2 separate regions of the Homo sapiens genome follow, and region 2 is linked to region 1. Evidence: fine-mapped expression QTL. A gene starts in region 1. The other region holds a variant in brackets. All regions are shown on one strand. Distances are between the middles of the regions.

Region 1 (5,370 bases):
CTCCCAAGTAGCTGGGACTACAGGTGTGAGCCACCAATGCCGGGCTAATTTTTGTATTTTGTAAAGAAACTTTTTGTAGGCTGGTCTTGAACTCCTGGCCTCAAGTGATCCACCCACTTTGGCCTCCCAAAGTGCTGGGATTACAGGCATGAGCCACCATGCCTGGCCAACTTCACCTCTTAATGCCTCTTTTTTTCTCACCTAAAGAGTGGGATAGTACTTGTGCCTACCTCATGGTAATCAGAGAATTAAAAGATCAAAATTTGTGTAAAGGGCTGAAAACAGTGCCTGGTACACAGACCTCAAAAAGGGTTAACTTTTTTTTTTTGAGATGGTATCTCATTCTGTCACCCAGGCTGGAGTGCAGTGGCACGATCTCAGCTCACTGCAACCTCCGCCTCCCAGGTTCAAGTGATTCTCCTAGCCTCAGCCTCCTGAGTAGTTGGGATTACAGGCACCTGCCACCATGCCCGGCTATTTTTTGTATTTTTAGTAGAGACGGAGTTTCGCCATGTTGGCCAGGCTGATCTCGAACTCCTGACCTCAGGTGAAAAAGGGTTAACTATTTTTACTTATGGGAACACCTAGCAAATTCCTCGAACTCCCTCAAGTGCCCCCAAGGAGCACCCGTTCCAATAGGCATCCTCCTCTGTGAGGCTCACTCCCCACCTGGCATGCCTTGCCATCAGTGCTGGAGAAAGATTGTGGATAAATACCACAAAGTGGTTAGGAGTGGCCACTTTGGGTTCACTGCTGGACTTGTGGGTTCAAATGTCAGTGCCCTGGGCTACCAGCTGTCAGGCCTTCATAGAGGCTTTACCTGTCTGGGCTGCAGTCCCTCATAAATTGGAGATAATCATAGCACCTCCCTCAGGAAGCAGAGTGAATAAGGCAACAAAAACAATTACTGAGTGCCTACTCTGGCTGGACAGGTGCTACCTAATAGGAGTGATCAAGGTACTGCAGGTTGAAATGAAATAACGCTTGTGAAGTGTTGAGGCGTGTATGCCTGCAGAATCATAAGCACTCAATATGCGTTACGTGCTATATGCTACAAACTAAATATATCATACTAAAAAATGTATAGGTCTGCTAGATTTTTAGACAAAAAATATATGCATCTGAATATCCATCTTTTGTTACTCCCATATTCATTTTCTCATTTATTCCCACAAATCAGCCCTGGAGGATAGGCAGGGTGGAGATTTTCTCCTGTTTTTACTGAGGAAAAAGAGGCACTGGGAGGTTAAAATTAAAATGCTGATAAGCTGGTGTCCGGCAACAGGAGATGACTGGGCATATTAAAAAGAAAACCGGCCCGGCGCAGTGGCTCACGCCCCTAATCCCAGCACTTTGGGAGGCCGAGGCAGGCAGATCACTTGAGGCCAGGAGTTCGAGACCAGCCTGGCCCACATGGTGAAACCCTTTCTCTACCAAAAATACAAAAATTAGTGGGCGTGGTGGCATGTGCCTGTAGTCCCAGCTACTCGGGAGGCTGAGACACGAGAATCCCTTGAACCTGGGAGGCGGAGGTTTCAGTGAGCCAAGATTACCCCAGTGCACTCCAGCCTGGGTGACAGAGTGACACCCTGTGTCAAAAATAAAATAAAATAAAATAAAATAAAATAAAATAAAATAAAATAAAATAAAATAAAATAAAATAAGAAATCCAGCGGAGGGCAATGTTCCACCTCGAATCTCTGAGTGGAGAGCCAGAGGCCTTGGGCTGGGAGGTTTGATGGAGGCCTCTGGGTCCAGGGCGCCCCAGCCACGAGGACAGGCAGGAGGGCGGCGGTGGACACGCCCCGGGGCGCACGCTCGCTGGCGGCCGCCTGCCCGTGGGCAGAGGAGCGCACGAGGCCGGGCACGACGCTGGGTGGCGCTGCCGGGCCGCCCCGCGCTAGACCTGTTGCGTCCAGGGCGCAACTCCGGCAGGTTTAGGGTAAAGGGGCGCTCCGCTCTCTCCGCGCGCCCCCTGCAGCCCTGGACGCAGCACCTCCGTTTGGGACGCCCTACGCCCACCTTAACTTGAGGCTCCCATCCACGCAGCCTCTGCAAGCCTCACCGCAACCGTGCTAGGCGCGTCGGGTGGGGCGGGAATAAAGTTTTTCCAACCCAGTTTGGGGAGAGGGCTGGATGGGAAGGACCCTCCCTGCTGCAGACTTCATGGCAGGCTGCACTGTGTCCCCTCGGCTCCACGGCTGCCCCGGGGGCGCTGCTTTCGGTAGGTGCCAGCCCCCGTGCCAGCAGGATGGGCTGACCTGTGTACCGCCCCCTCCCACCCCCTTCCCCATTCCCATCCCCTCCCCCGCCTCCTGCGCGCTCCGGCCCCGGCGTCTCCGGCCCCGCCTGCGCTGGGGTCGCTGCAGTCCCCGCAGCTGCCCCGGGCTGCTTGCCCAGGCGCCCCGGCCTTATTCCAGCCTGGGGAGCGCCTCGGTGGGGAGCACGGGACAGCGAGGGAGGCCGAGGCGGGGGCCCTGGGCGCCCGATATCTCCGAACCGGGGAGGCGGCCCCGATTCCGAGAGCCGGAACGCAGGGAAAGGCAAGGACGGGGCGGCCGGCGGAGGGGCGGGCGCCGCTCATCAGCCACGCCAGTCACGTCTGGGGCCACCGGCTGCCTTTTTCTTCCTTTCCCCCTTTGCTTTCTTCCCCCTCCGCTGTTGGCGAGGGCAAAGTGGCCGTGGCGGCGCCATGCCCGGGCCGGAGTGAGTGCGCGCGGGCGAAAATGGCGTACATCCAGGTAGGGCTGAGGCTGGGGGCAAGGTCCGGGGTGCGGGTAGGGGGTGCCGCGCCCCCTCCGGCTGGGAGCGCGCGGAAGGGAGGGCCCACGGCTAGGCTCCCACAAACTTGCTTCGAGAAAAAGGGTGCCCGTGCGCGGGCAACCTGTGCAGCAACAGGGGTGCGCCCCGGGAGGAGAGACTGGGGACCCCCAAACCCCGGGATGGAGGGTCCTATGTGTACTCTGCAACGCGCGCCCTTGCCTCTTGGGGAGGGAATGGGGGGTGGGGCGGACTTTTCTTCTCCCCTGCCCCCTCCCTCTCCTTGGCACCCCACCCCAGGGGAGGGGCCGTGGGGAGGGCGGCCCGGGGCGCGCCAGCCACCCGGCCCGCCAGCTGCCGTTGCCGTGGTGACGGCTCCGGCTAATTGGCCGGCGGAGCGAGCCTGAGGCAGCTGTTCCGACCAGGAGGGACAAGGACGTCGTCTCTCCTGGGCACTGGGTGCTGAGGGGTGGGGGACACCCAGAGGCCAGAGGCGCGCTGGTGAAGAGAAGGGAGCCTGTTACTTTACTCCGCTGCATTGGGGTCTGGGAGATGTGGACCCTCTTCACCTTGAAGAAACGTCCCCCAAGAATCCTTGGGCTGAAATAATTCTGAAATAATTTCTAAGCAGCCTTTTTTGGGGGGAGGGGGCGGAGGGGTGGGCCGGGCTTCTTGGTGAAAAGACCTTTCTCCTCTGCAAGAAGGGAAGTGACCGCAGGTCAGCGCCAAGGTCAAGCAGGCAGACCCGCAGTGAGACCCGTTGAGCTGCTTGCTTCTGGCGCTGGCGCCTCTGAGCTGGGCAGAGAAGCTTACAGACTCCCACGTCCAGGGTGCATCTTGGCTCACATCTTGTCCCCTCAGCCACAGCTGGGGGTGCTGCTGGTCCTCCCATTCCCCTCTGGGTCACATATCCCCTCATCGTGTCCTCAGACGCTTCAGCCTGCCGGGAACTCTGTGCTGTGTCACCTGGCGGAGCCTCTTCCATTCATCTCCTGCCTTAGATTCCCTGAATTGGCTTCCCTTTCGTGGAATCGCCAGTTTCTCTTCAAGTTCAATGAAGGTCACATTACTGTCCACCCACTGTGTGCTGAATGTTGTCCAGGGGCTATTGAGTAGTCGCCCAACAAACACTTGGGCGACCGCCTACTAAGTGCTGGCACTGGGGATACAGTGATGAAAACAGCACAGTTCCTGCCCCTCTGGGTGCGCAATTTAGTGAGAAATGAACATGATTACCGGCTCCTGGAGTTCTTAATGGCCGCCTTCAGCACAGAGAAATTAAGTGACTTGCCCAAGGCCACATAGCTGCTTAGGGGTCAAGGTGGGATCTCAAGAGGGGACTGTGGTAGATATGTTAAGCATCTCATATGGCGATGACCCAGTGATGTTGGTTTTCCTTCTAGAACAAGGTGTTAAACTTTGTTGTCCTGTAAAGTGCCAGATACTATTTTTTTTCTCTTGGAGGCTCACATGGTCTCTGTCACAACTATTCCACTCTGACTATAGCACCAAAACTGCTATGGACAGTAGTAAATGAGTGGGCGTGGCTGTGTTCCAATAAAACTTTATTTGCAGGCACCAAAATTTGAATTTTGTATACTTTGCACGAGTCAAGAGGCATTCATCTTTTTTTTTTTTCAACCTTTTAAAAACTCACAAATTATTCTTAGCTCAAGGGCTGTAGCAAAACAGGCTGCGGGGCTGGTTTTGATCTGCGAGCCTTAGTTTGCCAACCTCTGTTTAGAATGCATGGGTTGTCTTTCTTCCTCTTTCTTTCTGGTGTGAATTGGTTCTCTTCCATCGGTGTCAAACACGTGAGCCCAGGAGACCCAATGCCAGAAAGACTCAGCATGCCTGGGAATGTCAGGGCACCCTCTTTCATCTTCTTTGCTTTCTCTCTGCTCCTTGACACTCATCTTGCACCTGGGCTTTGAGAAAGTTGGGGAGGCTGTTTTTCAGCAGGGCCATGAGGTGACCTTGTCTCTGTTCACTTTGGTTTCATAAATGGCCTCTTTTGACCACCACATGTCTAGGAAATGCTTCCCTGTATTCAGAAAATGGTCATAGATTATTATGAAAAAGTATCACTTTATCCTAACATTCTAAAGCACTTTTTCATGCAAGCCCTATGAGGGTATAATATTTTGCTGTTTTGTGCCCTGCTGTACCTGCCGGGACAATACCCAGTGCCTACTGGGTTCCACTAGGTCTTGACAATCACCTAATTCTCATCACAGAAAGGGTGCATTTTATTTTTCAGCTGGACCGCACGCAAGTATTTGCATAGTCAGTGTCCTGTCCCACCTCAACAGCACGCCTTTGAGGTATAGAGTAGCCTTTCCACTAAAGAAGAGGTAACCGAGGCTCAGAGAGGCCCCCTGTCTTGCCCAAGTCACATGATCAGTCGATGGTGAGACTAGGACTCTAGTACTTCCTGGCTCAGCTTGTTGCGTGGCCCCTCAGCACCTTTGGGTCTTGTTCTGTGTATGGTTTGAGTTTTGGCTTTAGAGAGTTTGTGATAAGTGCCTTTGACTATTTCCCAAGCTGTTGCTATTCCCTTACCACTTCGAGGATTTCAATTTTTTCACAAGCCACGTACCACCTATACTA
Region 2 (5,370 bases), 44 kb after region 1:
CCAATATAATCCAGTGTGAAATGCAGCTTGTCAGCCTCACTGGGGGCTTATGGAGGAAGGGCATTGCACTCACATAGAAAGTCAACATTTCGGCTGGGCGCGGTGGCTCACGCCTGTAATCCCAGCACTTTGGGAGACCGAGGTGGGCGGATCACAAGGTCAGGAGATCGAGACCATCCTGGCTAACATGGTGAAACCCTGTCTTTACTAAAAAATACAAAAAAAAAAAAATTAGCCGGGCGTGGTGGTGGGCGCCTGTAGTCCCAGCTACTCGGGAGGCTGAGGTAGGAGAATGGCGTGAACCCGGGAGGCGGAACTTGCAGTGAGCTGAGATCGTGCCACTGCACTCCAGCCTGGGAGACAGAGCAAGACTCTGTCTCAAAACAAAACAAAACAAAACAAAAACAACAACAACAACAACAAAAAACCCTAAGTATCTAGCAATAGGAAAATGGTTAATATAAGTTACAGTATTTCAGCCTAATGGAATGTTGTATGTGAACATTTATAATGACACTTATAATGTCTAGATAGTCACATGGAAAATGTGTGTGTAATTCTTTTAGTTTTATTATATTTTATTATTTTATTTTTATTAGTACAAATTTATGAGGTACACATGAAATTTTGTTACATATGTAATATATAGTGATAAAGTCATAGTATTTAGGGCTTCTATCATTCTGGTACAATACATTTTTGTTAAATATAGTAACACTACTCTACTATCAAACATTTATTATTATTATTTTTTAATTGAGACGGAGTCTTGCTTGAGGCAGGAGTCCTGAACTCCCGGCTTCAAGTGATCCTGCCACCTTGGCCTCCCGAAGTGCTTGGATTACAAGCGTGAGTCACCGTGCCCAGCCCCAAACATTGAATTTTTTCCTTCTCACTAACTGTATGTTTGTACCCTTTAACCCACTTCTCTTTATCCTCTCCCCTCTGATCTAAGGGTATTTTTTTTTAAAAGGGTATTTTTTTTTAAAGGGTATTTTTTTTTTTTAAATACCCTTTTTTTTTCTTAAAGGGTATTTCAGAATGTGACTGTATTGTCAATGCAGCTATGCAAATACAGGGTTGAGGTATTGACAAAGACTGGGAAAAAAAGTGAAGAGAAGAAAGAAGAAGAAAGAAAAGGAAGTGAAAGCATTTGATGAAATGTGTAAAGCACTGGCATTGCGGTTGGAGTTTGCTTTTTAAAAAATCCATTTCTATTTTAATGTTGTTTGTGCAGCAGATTAAGAGACAATAGACTTTATCCAACCGGTGAGAGCAAAGGCATAAGGGGGCGCAGAGCAGCTGTGTTTGGGCTTCACTAAAATTTGTGTGCGCACATTTGAAACCCTTTGCTAGGTGAGAGAGAGCGAAAGGACCATAGAGAAGGAGTTCAAAGCAAACCTGTCAGGAGGAGAGCTGGGCTCTTGCTATCTCCAGAAAATGTCTTTTGTCCCAGATGATTTTCTTTGATTTCCTTTTTATTGATTAGAAATTAACTGTGTTGAAAGGCTGCCGGGAGAGAGAATTTTTGTCTGGGTAGAGAGGAGAGAGCTGAGCCACATTTGCCCAAGCCGGCTGCTGGATTCATCTGAGTAATTTACAGATTGTCTATTTTGGTTCTCCCTAGCCCACCCCACGTGGTTCGACCAAATTAAGCGCATCGGGCTCTTACAAGAAAGGAAATGAGGCCTGTTTATTTGTGACATCGCTTCCACAAGGGACGAGGTAGAAGTGGGCCTGTCACCCAGTTCCTTCTCCTGTCTTGGCTTCGATTCTGTGGGGGTTGGATAGGACAGGGGGTGGAACATCGTGCTGACAACCCCTCTCGGCCCGTGGTGTGGCAGCAGCTCAGCCTCTGTGTTGGGGGCTGCACTGCTTGATCTTGGATTTGTTTCTGGTGCTGTGAATATAGTAGTGGACACATGGGCACTTTCTTTGCCTTTATGGAGAAAAAGGTAAGGACCAAGTACCGTGAAGGAAATGACAAGGTGGTGTGATGGGAAATGATGGAGGCAGAGGGGTGTTTTCAACTGAGTGTTAATGGGAAGCTTAGATGAGGAGGTGACTGTTGAGTTGAGATTCCCAGGGAATAGCAAGTTCAAGCCTTGGGGCAGGTACGATCTTGTATTTTTTTTTTTTTTGAGACAGAGTCTCGCTCTGTCGCCGAGGCTGGAGTGCAGTGGCGGGATCTCAGCTCACTGCAAGCTCCGCTCCACCTCCCGGGTTCACGGCATTCCCCTGCCTCAGCCTCCCAAGTAGCTGGGACTACAGGCGCCCGCCACCAAGCCCGGCTAATATTTTTGTATTTTTAGTAGAGACTCGGTTTCACTGTGTTAGCCAGGATGGTCTCGATCTCCTGACCTCGTGATCCGCCCGCCTCAGCCTCCCAAAATGCTGGGATTACAGGTGTGAGCCACCGTGCCTGGCCAATGATCTTGTATTTTTAAAGAATAGAAAGAAGGCAGAGGCGGTTGGTGAGTGAAGTCTCAGAGGTAGGCAGGAATCAAATCATTTGGATCAAATCATTTCGATCCCGTAGATAAATTATTTTAGAGACCATTAGTTCTCAACTGGGTGATTTTTGCCCTCAGTGGACATTTGACGATGTCTGGAGACATTCTGAGACTTTACCACTGGGGAGAGGGGTGATGCCGCTGGCATCCAGTGTGTAGAGGCCAGAGATGCTGCTAAACTTCCTGTAGCGCACAGGACAGCTCCCACAACACAGAATGCTCCAGCCCAAAGTGGCAATAGTGCTGAGGTTGACAAACCCTGTTGTTGAC[C/T]AGGCTAAGCACTTTGAATTTTATTTTGAGAGATGGAGGGTTTTAAACAGGGAAGTGAGGCCGGGTATGGTGGCTCACACATGTCATCCCAGCACTTTGGGAGGCCAAGGTGGGCAGATCACTTGAGGTCAGGAGTTCGAGACCAGCCTGGCCAGCATGGTAAAACCCTATCTCTACTAAAAATACAAAAATTAGCTGGGCATGGGGGCTCATGCCTGTAATCTCAGCTACTCGGGAGGCTGAGGCACAAGAATCACTTGAACCCAGGAGGCAGAGGCGACAGTGAGCCAAGATTGTGCCAGGGCACTCCAACTTGAGCCACAGAGCGAGATTCCTGTCACAATAAATAAATAAATAAGAAATAAACGGGGAAGTGAGGTAATGGCATGGTTCCGTTTTCTTTTAGAAAACCAGAATATTGGTCTAAATTATTTCAGCTCTGACATTCCAATCTTATCTCACTAAATTTGGATAAGGAAGACTTCACAGAGTTGGAGATCCTACCAGAACAAGCAATCCATTTTCCTTGGGAGGGCTGAACCCACTTCCTAGGAGGATTTTTGTATTTGGTGCTTGGATGTCCACTTTGCAGTGAAAAAGAATGGCTTAAGGAGAAAGAAGAAGGAAGGAAATCTTAGCTGGATCTTTCTGGGCTCTGGATTGTGGCTGGTGCTTTGGCCTCTTCAGATCCAGAGGGGACTGAAGACAGACTCAGTGGAGGCAGTGAATAGACTTTTCTTTCTTCTTAAGAGACAGGGTCTTGCTGTGCCTCCCAGGCTAGAGTGCAGGGGTTCAATCATAGCTTACTAAAGCCTTGTTAGAAACAAATGTGCAGTGTCACAAAGAAAATGAGCACTAAAACAAAGGATTTCCCAGTAAGGCAAAATTTACTTCTGTAGGAAGGTGTTTCTCACAGGTCTAGTCATCATGAGAGTGCACTGAACAAAGGAGGGAAGGGGTTTTTATCCCTAACGTAGCTTGTCCCTGCTACTGTGTCCTGCCTCCACAGGTTGGAGTTGGACCACACAATCTAAGCTGAACCTGGTTGGCTAACTTGGAAAGTGCGGGAATGCGGTTACACTGGCAGGAAGGACAGTTTTGGTGGGAAGAGCTGCTGTGATGGGAGGGGTAATTTACAGAGTGGGTAGTAGATGTAGGCTCTGTAGATAAGGACCAGTGGAAGAGTTGTTTACTGAAACCAAGACAGGGAGGTACAGAGAGCAAGGAAGTTTGGCCTTAAAAGTAGAGAACAAAGAACAAGGAAACTAAACAAGCTAAACCTTTGAAGAGGAGCTTCTCGCATCAGATAGCCTCAAACTCTTGGCTTCAAGCATTCCTCCTGTCTCAGCCTCCTGAGTATCTGGGACCACAGATGCATGCCACCATGCTAAGCTAATTAAAAAATAAAAATAAAGAAAGTTTAGAAATGGAAGGTGGGAAGGTTTTGCTTTGTTGCCCAGGCTGGCCTCAAACTCCTGGCCTCAACCCATCTTCCCACCTCAGCCTCCCGAGTAGTTGGGATTAGAGGCTCAAGCCACTGCACCTGACGAACTGTTCTTATACCAAAAGTTCCAAGTCTTCGGTTCCTGTTAAAATTTTGTTCAGGGTACAGTTATGTATTTAAAAAATCTGAATCAGCCCAAGATTTATAGGCTTAGTTCAGGATTTCTCACCTTTGGCACTAGTGATATTTTGGGCCAGACCATTCCTTGTTGAGGGGGGCTGTCTTGTACCTTGTAGGATGTTTGGCAGCATCCCTGGTCTCTCTCTACCCACTAGATGCCAGTAGCAGACCCTACCCTATTCCCCAGTTATGACAACTAAAACATCTCCAGATGTTGCCAAATGTCCCTGGAGGTGGCAGCAGAGAGGACAAAATTACCCCAGGTTGATGCAAGTTGGATGTCCTAGCACCTCATGGATGTCTGTAAAGATCACCATTAATTTCATGATCTTCCTAAGTGGGGCAAGTTGAGGAGCTGCTGGACTAGATGGTCCTGCTTTCTGTTCCTACATTCTAAGCTCCTTATCAGCTGGCTCCTGGTCAGCTTTTTTTGTTTTGTTTTAAATTAGAGACCATGTGTTGCTCTGTTGCCCAGGCTGGAGTGCAGTGGCACCACCAACATTCACTGCAGCTCCGAACTCCTGGGCTCAATTGATCTTCCCACTTTGACCTCCTAAAGCTCTTGGATTATAGGCATGAGCCACCATGCTTGGCCCTCGTCAGCTTTTAGATGTAGCATCTGATACTTCTAGGGAAGAAGGACTGAGAAGATGCTGGCTCCAGGAACACCCCAGGGACATTTTTGTCCCTAGATTGTTAGAGCCGACATTTATGATGCCCAAGTGAACGATGTTATTCATACGTACAACATATTCTGGGGCAGAGACCCTGAGTGTGATGGCAACTCTCCTTTTCCTCCAGGGCTGGGTTAGGATAAGGCTCTGAGGCCCCCAAGCCCTGAAAATTATGGCGCTGCTCACCATATGTCATTCAAGATAATAATAATTCTCTTTTTTTTTTTTTGAGACAGAGTCTTGCTCTGTTGCCCAGGCTGGTGTGTAGTGGTGCAATCTCAGCTCACTG

Evidence for each region.
Region 2: its variant is fine-mapped to the expression of SYT17 in whole blood (TOPMed, PIP above 0.99).

The regions. Positions count from the first base shown.
Region 1 is chr16:19,165,921-19,171,290 of GRCh38, forward strand. SYT17 (synaptotagmin 17) reads left to right here and starts at 2,320. Exons shown (of 8, transcript NM_016524.4): 1 at 2,320-2,741. The coding sequence starts at 2,727. RefSeq lists a silencer at 1,716-1,965 and an enhancer at 2,157-2,904.
Region 2 is chr16:19,209,498-19,214,867 of GRCh38, forward strand. All of the region lies in intron 5 of SYT17 (synaptotagmin 17), which reads left to right. Among named protein-coding and RNA genes, the nearest start is that of SYT17, 44 kb to the left of the region's middle. The variant C/T (reference allele first, on the strand shown) is at 2,784.